2 separate regions of the Homo sapiens genome follow, and region 1 is linked to region 2. The links come from fine-mapping of genetic effects on gene expression. Tissue or cell type: transverse colon. Region 2 holds a variant in brackets; the other region holds the start of a gene. All regions are shown on one strand. Distances are between the middles of the regions.

Region 1 (5,383 bases), 36 kb before region 2:
CACTCACAGCTCCGACCTCAACTCAGCCATTCCTTCCTCTGGGAAGCCTCTGATTTCACCAACTCAGCCCAGTCACACTCCAGTCAGCTCCCTAGCAGCTCTTAGGGAAGTTGGAATGTGGCATTAGTATATGAGATTCGATCCGCTTGTCTCTCTGTGGCTCCTGCCTCCATGAGCATGTGCAGCCCCTACTGCCCTCCGTTCTATTTCTGGCCCCAAATGCAATGCCTTTTGCATGGATCCCAAAAAATATATTTTGAATGAATGAGTGAATGAATGAATGAAGGAATGCATGGTCATTTTGCTTTTCTTCTCTATCTTGAACCAAGCAATTCAGAGCAAGAATCTTTTCTTTCCCATTGCAAGTCACCAAACATGATGGAAAGCTGCCTTCTGGCATGGTTGTCCTTATGTTTCAGCTCCTCCGGGGCTCTCAGTGGCTTCAGAATCCCCTACAGACTCATTCTGCTGGGCACATGGTCTGAAACCCAAGAGACTCAGGCAATACTCAATTAGCCAGCCAGCTGCTGCATGCCACAGCTGTTAGCATTCCCTTCTGAGATGGGGGTGCCTCCCAGACTTCACCCACTAGTGCACTAAAACCAATTCCCACCACCCCATTTTTCCTGGGCTTAATCCTGTTCCTGACACTGATATGAATTGTGCTTTTGTAGTTACAGGCACCGAGGATCTTTCTGATTCTTCGAAGGTAAGGAGACACATGGGCTGAAACCGAGGCAGGCCTGGGACCTCCTAGGAGCAGAGGCAGTTGCCACCCATGGCCCTCACCTTGTCCTTCCCCTGAGCTGTGAGGCATTGCTGCCTTGCAGGCCTTGCTTCTCTCTGCACATTTGTCTTGCTCTTCTCTTGCTATGGAGTGGTTTCTTTATTCTGTGTTTTTAGTGGGATGTAAAGAGAAGCTGGGCCCCAACACAGGCTCTGCCATTTTCAGCTGCCTGCGTGGGGTTGGATCACATGGACTGGACATGTCCCCTCTGACACCCTTTCAGCAGGCACAGGGAGGGCACTTTCCTGTACAAAAGCTGTCGGCATGGCAGGCAGCACCACCAAATTCAATGGTCTGTGGAGGCCAGTGCTTCCATAATAAACTTTGTTTATTATCTTCTACAGAGTTCTCTGGAGTTAGAGAACCAATATGATATACATCTTAAAAAACAACTGTCTATCACAAAAAGGAGTATTACAATATATGATACAATAAAACCATCAAAATGAGTATTGAAATAAATAACACATATTCAATTTTTTAAATAGATAATATATTTACAACAGCTCAAAATACTTAAATTATGGAATAGTATTCAGTAGAAATTCTCTCACCCTTGTCCCCCATCTATCCAGTTTCCACACTCCCTCCAAAACAAGTAACCACTGTTTTTTTCACTGTTTATTTTGAAATAATATAGACTCACAAGAAATTGCAAAATTAATAAAGAGAATTCCTGATATAACCGCTCCTTAGAGTATGCTTTTCCAGGAAATACATATATAAGTTTGTATAAATGTATCATATTTTCCACTCTGTTTTATTCAAATGGCATCATGTTATACATACGTTTGCACCTTGATGCTAAAGACTGAATATGTCTTGGCAAAATTCATGTGTTGGAGCCCTAAGCCCCAGTACAATGGTATTTGGAGGTTGGGCCTTTGGGAGGTGAACAGGTGATGAGAGTGGAGCCCTCATTAATGAGATTAGTGGCCTTATAAGAAAAAAGATGATAGAGATGATCTGTTTCCACCATCCACTGTGTGAGGTTACAGCAAGAAGGCACCTGTTGGCAAACCAGGAGGGGAGCCCTCACCAGGAGCTGATTTGCCAGCACCTTAATTATGGACTTCTCAACCTCCAGAACTATGATAAATAAATGATAAATAAATTTCTTTCTTTCTTTCTTTCTTTCTTTCTTTCTTTCTTTCTTTCTTTCTTTCTTTTCTTTTCTTTTTCTTCTTCTTCTTCTTTCTTTCTTTTTTTTTTTTTAGAGGAACTTTCACTCTTGTCGCCCAGGCTGGAGTGCAATGGCACAATTTCGGCTCACTGCAACCTCCACCTCCTGGGTGGAGCTATTTTCCTGCCTCAGCCTCCTGAGTAGCTGTGTTTGCAGGCATGTACCACCAGGCCCAACTAATTTTTGTATTTTTAGTAGAGATGGGGTTTCATCATGTTGGCCAGGCTGGTCTCGAACTCCTGACCTCAAGTGATCTGCCCCTCTCAGCCTCCCAAAGTGCCGGGATTATAGGCATGAGCCACCATACCTGGCTGAGAAATAAATTTATATTGTTTAAGCCACCCGGTCCATAGTATTTTTGTTATTTCAGCCATAACTGACTAAGGCACTTTCTAAAACAGACAGACAAACTAACACATAAAAAGCCCTACTGAAGTAATTACATAATCAAGTTGTCACTTTAATTTTTTGTGTCACTTTTCCTGGATCAAAGTTTTTCTCTGATGCAAAACATGATATTCTCTTTACTCCATATATTGGCTCAGGTATCATAAAAAAAAAATCAAAACCCTAGGGCTGTTTTCACAAATATGCCATTTAAAATGCATGGTGCCAAACCTCTTTCCTGAACATTTTCTTCCAGCAGATCTGAGTTGGTGTGTGGAAATCTATTTAAAAAAAACAAAAACAAAAACAAGTTCTTCAGGTGATCTAGCTAGATCTAGCACATGCAAGTTCTTACTCAGATTCTGGCAATTGTTGTCTAAGAATATATCGACAGAGTACATACTTTTAAAAAGTTAATGGACTGGTGTATAACCAAAGCCACAACACCCCACACATGTGACTGTGATCTTTGCTCCTTTGCAAAGTCCTCACAGAGTTGAAGAGTTCTGCACTTTGTTCCTTCCCTGGCACACCTGTGTCTGCATTCCTTCTATCTCCCGGCATTCTCCACTCCTGTCTCTGTGTGTTTAAAAACCGGTGTGGGAAGTGTGCACGCCTGTGACGTCAGACTCCAGACCATGTATTTCCTGACTCCCATCTTGGTAGCCATTCTCTGCATTTTGGTTGTGTGGATCTTTAAAAATGCCGACAGAAGCATGGAGAAAAAGAAGGGGGAGCCTAGAACCAGGGCCGAAGCTCGCCCCTGGGTGGATGAAGACTTAAAAGACAGCAGTGACCTGCACCAAGCAGAAGAAGGTAAAGACACCAGCTATGCTGCTTAGCTTCGCTGTCGTGTTGTGTTGATGATGAGTGTGAGTCAATGGCAGGGCTTATGGAGAGGAAGAAACACACACAGGCCAGCTTCAACATCAACCTCTATTGTGCTAATGAATCAGTGCTTGGCACAGACAGGTCATCTCTCTCCAGTGATGAGCTTGTCACCTGCTGGGACCAACCCTTTTTTATTTTTGATGCCCAGTGAAAAAGCTGTTGAGAGGCTGAAGTTTTCCCTGGCTACAATTCTGTTCTGGTTGTTAAAATCTTTCTGCAGGAATTCATCCCAGGCTGGCAGTGGGCAGGGACTAAGAGGCCAGGTTTTGATCAGGAACTTTGAAATCTACCAAGTGGCATCACCTAGGAGGCTGCTACCTTTCCCTGTGCCAGGCCCTGGAAGTGAAAGCCTGGGATGGCCTCTGTCCTCAACAAACTGAATGTCCAGTTCAGCTGCCAAGATGATACACTAGAATCAGAGAGAGTAACAAAGAGACAGACCCGGTGGAACTGATTCTAAGGTGTTTAGAGTAGGCCTGGGAGTTTGACGGTGCAGTCAGGGAAAGGACAAACCAGGCTGGGAGGATGAATAGGGTACAAATAGCAAGTGCTGGGAGGCCTGTCAGGCAACAAGGAGCCAAAGGAGCAGAAGCACCTGGAGGCCTGGGGCAGGGGTAAGAGAGGAAGTGGAGAATTGAGGGTGGAGGGAGAGGGTAAGAATGGAAGTAGAGAATTGAGGGCGGGAAGGTTATGGCCACCTTGAGAAGAAGAGGTGATGAAGGAGGCAGGTAGGAAGGGAGAGAGCGTGGAGGAAGCTTGAGCCATCTGTGTTTGAGAAGCTTTGTCTGGGATGGGTTCGATTTGGAAGAGGCTCTGTGATCTTCAGCTGGGCTAATGATGCCCCCATCCCCAAACAGAGGCCACCTGGACATGTGAGTGTGTGTGAGTGTATGTGTGTGAGAGTGTGTGTTTATGAATGTGCATGTGTGTGTGCGCGTGCGTGTGTGTGTGTGCATGAGAGTGGATGTGTGTGCGCGTGCATGTGAGTGTTCATTAATGTGCATGTGTGAGTGTGTGTGCATGAGTGTGTGTGCACGAGTGGGTGAGTGTGCGTGTGAGTGTGCACGTGTGTGCATGAGTGTGTGTGAGCATGCATGAGTTTGTGTGTGCATGCATGAATGTGTGTGTGCGTGCGCATGAGTGTGTTTGTGAGAGAGTGTGTGCATGAGTGTGTGTCCTAATCTCAGGACCGGGGCGCAGGGTGTCCAGCTGGCTCTCAGTGCTAACAGCCTGTAGTGCTGACTGCACCGTACAGGAGTCTAGCCTCTCAGCAGGGCTGCCTCTTGCTCTCCTACATTGAAACCTCTTCCACTCAGAACGTCAATTCTACCCAGCGGAGAAGCACTTCCCTTAATCCAGGGAACATCTGCTGTGAAGCTGGGTAATGGTTTGTGCTGGTAAGGATGGCCTGGATGGTGGGGGCAGGTGGGAATGCAGTGGAAGGCGTGGATCAGAGTAAAGTTAATGGAAGAGCAACAGGGTTTGCTAGTAAATTGGATATTGGGAAAAGGAGGAGAGAGGGAGAGTTGGAGACTGGAAGCTATCATAAGTGGGTGAGGGAATGAGGATCCAGCTTAAAGGGGAAGATGTTGAGTTCCATCGAGGACATGTTTGATTTCAGACGACAGTGACACACCTGAGCAGAAAAGGGAGACAGCAGTCTATGTTAGGGGCCCAGGCCACAGATACTGACTGGAGAGTCACCAGTATGGGGAAGATACTTGGAACCTGGAGAAATAATGAATCCACAAAGTGGGCATTGCTAGAGAGAAGGCTGAGGATAGAACTTGAGGGACACATGCGGTTAAGAGGAACTGTGGAAGAAAAATGTACTAGAGAAAGGGAGGAGCTGTGGGAAAGGGGGCTCTGGGATCATAACAGTAACAAGCCCTTATATATTAATAGCTCTTAATGTATGCAATCACAGCCACATATTATGTGTAGTAAATCATTTCATCTTCATGACAGTACAATGAGGTAGGCACTATTAGAATCCCCATATTACAGATAAGGAAATTGAGGCCCCAATAGGGTAAGCTCAGGAAGGTGATTGCAGAGATAGGACCCAAGCCAGCTGTTTGCTGGGCTGCCTCTCCCCTGGGAGAATGACCTAGAATGGAGGAGGCAGGAGATAG
Region 2 (5,383 bases):
CTTAAAACCAAAAAAATAATGGAATGATTGCATCACTGCGAGGAAGTATACTTAATTAAGAAAGTTGAAAATGGTTTGTGTCTTACTAATAGGACTCACCTGAAGACTCTACTTTGCCAAGAGGGAATTTTTAACTCAAAGTTGTGTCAGCCAGCACGGGGTAGAGCCATGGTCCTCATACTTGCTGGCATCCCTCATCTGGTGGTCTGTTAAAGCACAGATTGCTGGGCCGCACCCTCAGGGTGTGTGATTGTGTGATTCAGTATTGCTGGGTGGTGCCCAAATGCTCCAGTTCTAATGTATTCCCAGGTGTTGCTGATGCTGGTGATTGGGTACCACATTTTGAGAACCATGGGGCATTGGCAATCAACAAATGCAATGCTTGTGACTTGACGTGATAAAAGTTCATTTATTGGGCAGGCAAAGTCCTCTGCAGGCCTGGAAACCCTCCGAGACAATTACTTGCATGGGGTAACCCAGTAATACTGTGGGATGCAACTTCTAGGGCATGGCTGCCTCCTTCCTAGAGGCAGCAGGGGGAGAAAACACTGGAAGAGGTCACCCCAACAATTCCATCGTACCTTGGCCTAGGAGTGACCTCCTCAGTCTCACAACCCTTTGGCTAGAACTAGTCATGTGACCTCACAGGAGGTGGAGCAGTGTCGTCAATGTTATCATCCCCCTGCACCTGCAAGGAAGGAGGCCCAGATGTGTGTAGGTGCTGGATGTCTCTTCCCCAAAACATATAACTCTGGATTTGGAAAACAAAACTGGATATAACAGAAAAGAAAAGGAGGGGAGAAGGAAAGTTGAAGAAATTGGTGAAATCAGAATAGGACAGTGAAAGGCATAAAGATTTTCTTCTGAAACGCTAAGATCGGTTGATATTTGTCTAATACAGCTTTAAATAGAGTATCACTTTGGGCCAAAGAAAATTGATATAAACATACATAAAGTGGAACTAAGATTGACTTCTTCCTAGACATCTCTGCCTCTGTCCACAAAATGGAAACTTCCATCAAGGAGTACTGGAGGACAGTTCAGTATTTCTTCTTATTTGCTCCTCCCTATGAAAGGAAGAGTGACTTCTCTGCTGCATGATATTGGGGGTAAATAGTTATTGCACATTTGCTCAAACCCCAGCAAAGTGCACCCCATTTTAAGCCAAATTTACAAACTTACAAAGATGATCCACCAATAGTTTTCTCTATTTACTTTATTCTTGCTCTGTCACCCAGGCTAGAATGCAGTGGTGTGATTATAGCTCACTGCAGCCTCCAACTTCTGGACTCAAGTGATCCTCCCACCTTAGCTTCCCAGGTAGCTGGGATACAGGTGCACGCCACCACACCCAGGCTAGTTTTTCTAAATATTGGAGTTCCCAAAGAGTATTCAAACTGATGTGATATTTTAAAAGACATTTTGTAAGCATCTTTTAGGAATATCAGTAAGTGGAAGAAAAACACATAGTTATCAGTGGATATTATGCCAGAGAGGCATGAGAAATATAATTTTATTTTGCTAGGTATCAGCAGAGTGCCCTCTTATAATTTGTGTGAAATGGAAACAAAGGTAACATCGTGTTTTCAATTCACACATATATACAAGTAATGAGAGGTCCAGAAGAAATGTGGCTTCAGCTCTGCTGCTACTGTGCCTCCCTTCTCCTGCCCCACTCAGCCCACAAAATAGGCTGGACACTCAAAAAACGTTGCGTTTATCTACCTTTTAGAGAGGGTGAATAGCAGAGAACTGGAGGTGGGAATGGTAAGGAACTCCCAGCAGGGTAGTGGAGGGAATGGGCTGACGCATCTAAGGCTGATGCCAGGTCTGCTCCCTATCTGGGTGGCCTCAGCAAATGACGTCCAGCACATCCAGGGGCAGGCTCAAGGGAGAACAGCCCCCAAAGCTAAGATCCTGCCAAGCTAAATACAGTAGTTCTAATGAAATGTGAGAGGCTATAATCCCATTTGGGAAATTCCTAAAAAGTCATGAGGCAGGGGATTGGTTTATGTTATTATCATGACCTGAGAGTCATGGCTCAGAGCCAAATGTTCAGGATTGAATTCAACAGCATTTAAATGTCTTTAGAGCAGGATGGAAATATGTTAGCAATGCCTGCAGAGTGCCAAGTAAACGCAAAAGCCAATGAGATCATAAAGGAAGTTGTTAGCTAACCTAGGTGGAGTCGCCAACTTCCTTCTACTCTAATAATTAAAAATAAAAATAATACTTGGGAGGTAACTGGAATAAAGGTTCTAAAATCAAAACCCTCTGAAGGGTGAAAACTGGGAGCCTCCTGTTCCCATAGTAACCACAGCACTCAGGGCACTGTCTCCCAGCGCTGGAGTACTGTCTTATGACCAGAGATCCTAAGCAACCTCTGCTCATCTGAGTTGTCCACCATATTGTGGGCATGAGTCCTTGACAATAGTAAATAGCA[C/T]CTCTGTTCCCTTATTGGGTAAATGATTTTCCAACTCTGGGAATGTGTAGAATTCATTATGGAAATAATGCAATAATTCAAATCCATAATATTGATACTTTCATGTTAAGTTTAGGACTAATCTTGTGTATGCTCCTTAAGTGATTTGAATCTTTAAAAAGCTTATGATTCCAATTTGAAATGTGAAATTGATTTTACGTTTGTGATTTGAAGTTGAAAGGTATAAGAATATTTAACTTAGCTCATGAAAAGTATTAGACTAGATTTACTATAAGTTTAATGTATTAGATTTACAAGAGATGCTTAAATATATGAGAATGTTTTGTCTTAATTGGTTATAATCTTGTCATATCAATGATTTGAAGTGCTAAAATAGAAAATTAAATATGATAAATTACACAAGAAGTTTAGAATGTTTAAAAGATTTTAATAAACAAAGCCTATAACTAAGACTGATGCTTTAAGGGAGTTTGGCTTATTCAACTTGAGTTAATCAAACATTAATTAAAGCCCCCCTTCCCCAAAGAGATTTGTTTTATTTATTTGTTTACTAGTTTTATAAATAGGATAATAAAATGTGTGTATGAGGTCAGAATGCTTTTGACAGAAGTAATACAAACAAAAAAACCTCACTATAACCCAAACAAATAAGGGATTATTTTTCCCTCCTAGTGAGAAGTCTGGAGGTAGATATTAGATGCTGGTCTATTGCTTCAATGAAGTTAGTGCCAAAGTCTCAGTGGTTCTCTTGGTCTTTCTTCATAACCACCGGATGCTGTTATAGCTTCACCAATCACAACAAGCACAGTGCTTGGAACATAATAGGTGCTCAATAAATATTCAGTACATATTGAATGTGTGCAGAAATATATCTCAATCTAGTCATAAAATTTTAGAATGCAAGATCTGAAAGGGACATGGGAATCTGTGTTTTTAACGTGTTCCAGGTGATTCTGCTGACCAGGTGAGTATGGTAAATGTGGCAAGTATTCTCAAGTGAGCTCATCAGTCCCAGGGCTGTTAGCACCTTCCATCTGCCAGGCCCTCCCTGGTCTAGACCTTCAGCCTTGACCTTGCCCTGAAACGCCAAACTCTTACTCCCAGCTGCTTTCTCTGTCCCTCCACTTAGATGTTAGTAGGCACCACAACCTTTTAATGCTCAAAATACTACTTTTGAGTCCTTTCCACCCCTTACTTGGCCCCTCAATTCATACTTTTTGGGATGGAGCCTCAAATCCAGAAATCTTCTGTATTAGTCCATTCTCACACTGCTAATAAAGAATACCTGAGACTGAGTAATTTATAAAGGAAGGAGGTTTAATTGATTCACAGTTCAGCATGGCTGGGGAGGCCTCAGGAAACTTACAATCATGGCAGAAAGAAAAGCAAACATGCCCTTCTTCACATGGTGACAGGAAGCAGAAGAATGACAACTGAGTGAATGGGGAAACCCCTTATAAAGCCATCAGATCTCATGAGAACTCACTCATTCTCATGAGAATAACATGGGGGAAACTGCCCCCATTATTCAATTATCCCCCATCAGTTCTCTCCCATGACATGTGGGGATTATGGGAACTACAATGCAAGATGAGATTTGGGTGAAGACATAGCCAAACCATATCATCATCTTAAATTTCTGTGATTCTTTTATTCTGCACATCCAAATCCATGAGCAAGTTATACTGACTTTATCTCTGAATATTGACCATGGGAGGGGAACAAGGAGAAGCAGTGTGAACAGGAAAAGCATGCTGCCTGCTGCTGTGAATAATAACATATCTTGCTCTGACCCAGTAGTCTTGTGTCTTCTGTCAGCATCCACACTACTAAGTCAGGCTACCTTGCTATCTTGCGAGGAGGGTAAAATCTTAGGTCCTTTACAATTCACGACCCTTGGCATTAGATGTTCTCTCCACCTGCAATGCTCCTCCCCTAGATACTGTTATGGCTGCTCCCTTCATGTCAGTCATGATTCAGCTCAACCCAGTACCTCTGCTGAGAAACTTTCCTTGACCACCCAATCTCCAGTACCCCCAACCAAACCCCAGTCACTCTCAATCACTTCAGATGTTTATTTTCTTCAGAGCACTTATCATTATTTAATAAATTTTAAAATTTTTATAGGGCAACATTTAAAATATAGACACAAAATCCTAAGAATATTATAATGAAAACTATGTAACCACAATGTAGGTTAAGATACAAAACATTATCAATACAGTTAATACCGCCTATGTATTACTCCCCAGTTCCATCCTCTTTCCTCCCTCCACAGAAGAAAGCACTAATCTAATTTGGTCTTATTAATGCCCATGCATGTAAAAAATACTCTTGCCACTAAATAGTATCTAATATTTGTCCATTTTAACTCTACACAGATGGCATTAAACTTTACATATTTTTCTGCAACATTCTTCAGTTATGCTTATGAGATAGTCCATGTTGAAATGTGCAGCTCTAGGTCATTCATTTTTACTGCTCTATACCATTGTACGAACATATCGCACATTTTTCATTTTCTTATGAGTTGTCATTTAAATTCTTTTACATTCATTCTTTGTCCTGTGGGAATGTTTAAGAATTTCTCTAGGGTATATACCTAAGAGTAGACTTACTGGGTCAAAGAGAAGTCAAATTTCAGCTTTTCTAGATCTTGCCAAATTGTTCTTCAAAGGTTTTCCCCCTCCCCCTGATTTTTAAAAACTCATTTACTGAGTAACTCCCATAATGCAATCATAAATTCTAAGATGATTTATCAATCATGCTCCCCTCTCTATTCCTGGTGCCGGTAGCTGCTATGTGAATATTTGTTGAATGGATGAAGAAATGTAGGCTAAGAGGGGTGCTGTGACTTGTCTAGAGTCACAAAACTATCTTAGTGACCAAGCAGGATTTGAGCCCAGGCTGCTGACTCCCTAAGAGGAAGTGGTTATTGTA

Direction of the effects. Positions count from the first base shown, and alleles are read on the strand shown. Sizes are in standard deviations (SD) of each study's normalised expression.
For the expression in transverse colon of the gene that starts at base 2,976 in region 1, allele T in region 2 goes with a lower level than allele C (large effect, 0.89 SD a copy in CEDAR).

Evidence for each region.
Region 1: IYD starts here. The variant in region 2 is fine-mapped to the expression of IYD in transverse colon (CEDAR, PIP 0.95). The same link has a PIP of 0.9 or more in ileum and rectum.

The regions. Positions count from the first base shown.
Region 1 is chr6:150,366,037-150,371,419 of GRCh38, forward strand. It overlaps IYD (iodotyrosine deiodinase), which reads left to right and starts at 2,976. Exons shown (of 5, transcript NM_203395.3): 1 at 2,976-3,173. The coding sequence starts at 2,996.
Region 2 is chr6:150,401,735-150,407,117 of GRCh38, forward strand. IYD (iodotyrosine deiodinase) reads left to right here. Exons shown (of 5, transcript NM_203395.3): 5 at 1-4,235. Among named protein-coding and RNA genes, the nearest start is that of IYD, 35 kb to the left of the region's middle. RefSeq lists a silencer at 1,879-2,173. The variant C/T (reference allele first, on the strand shown) is at 2,444.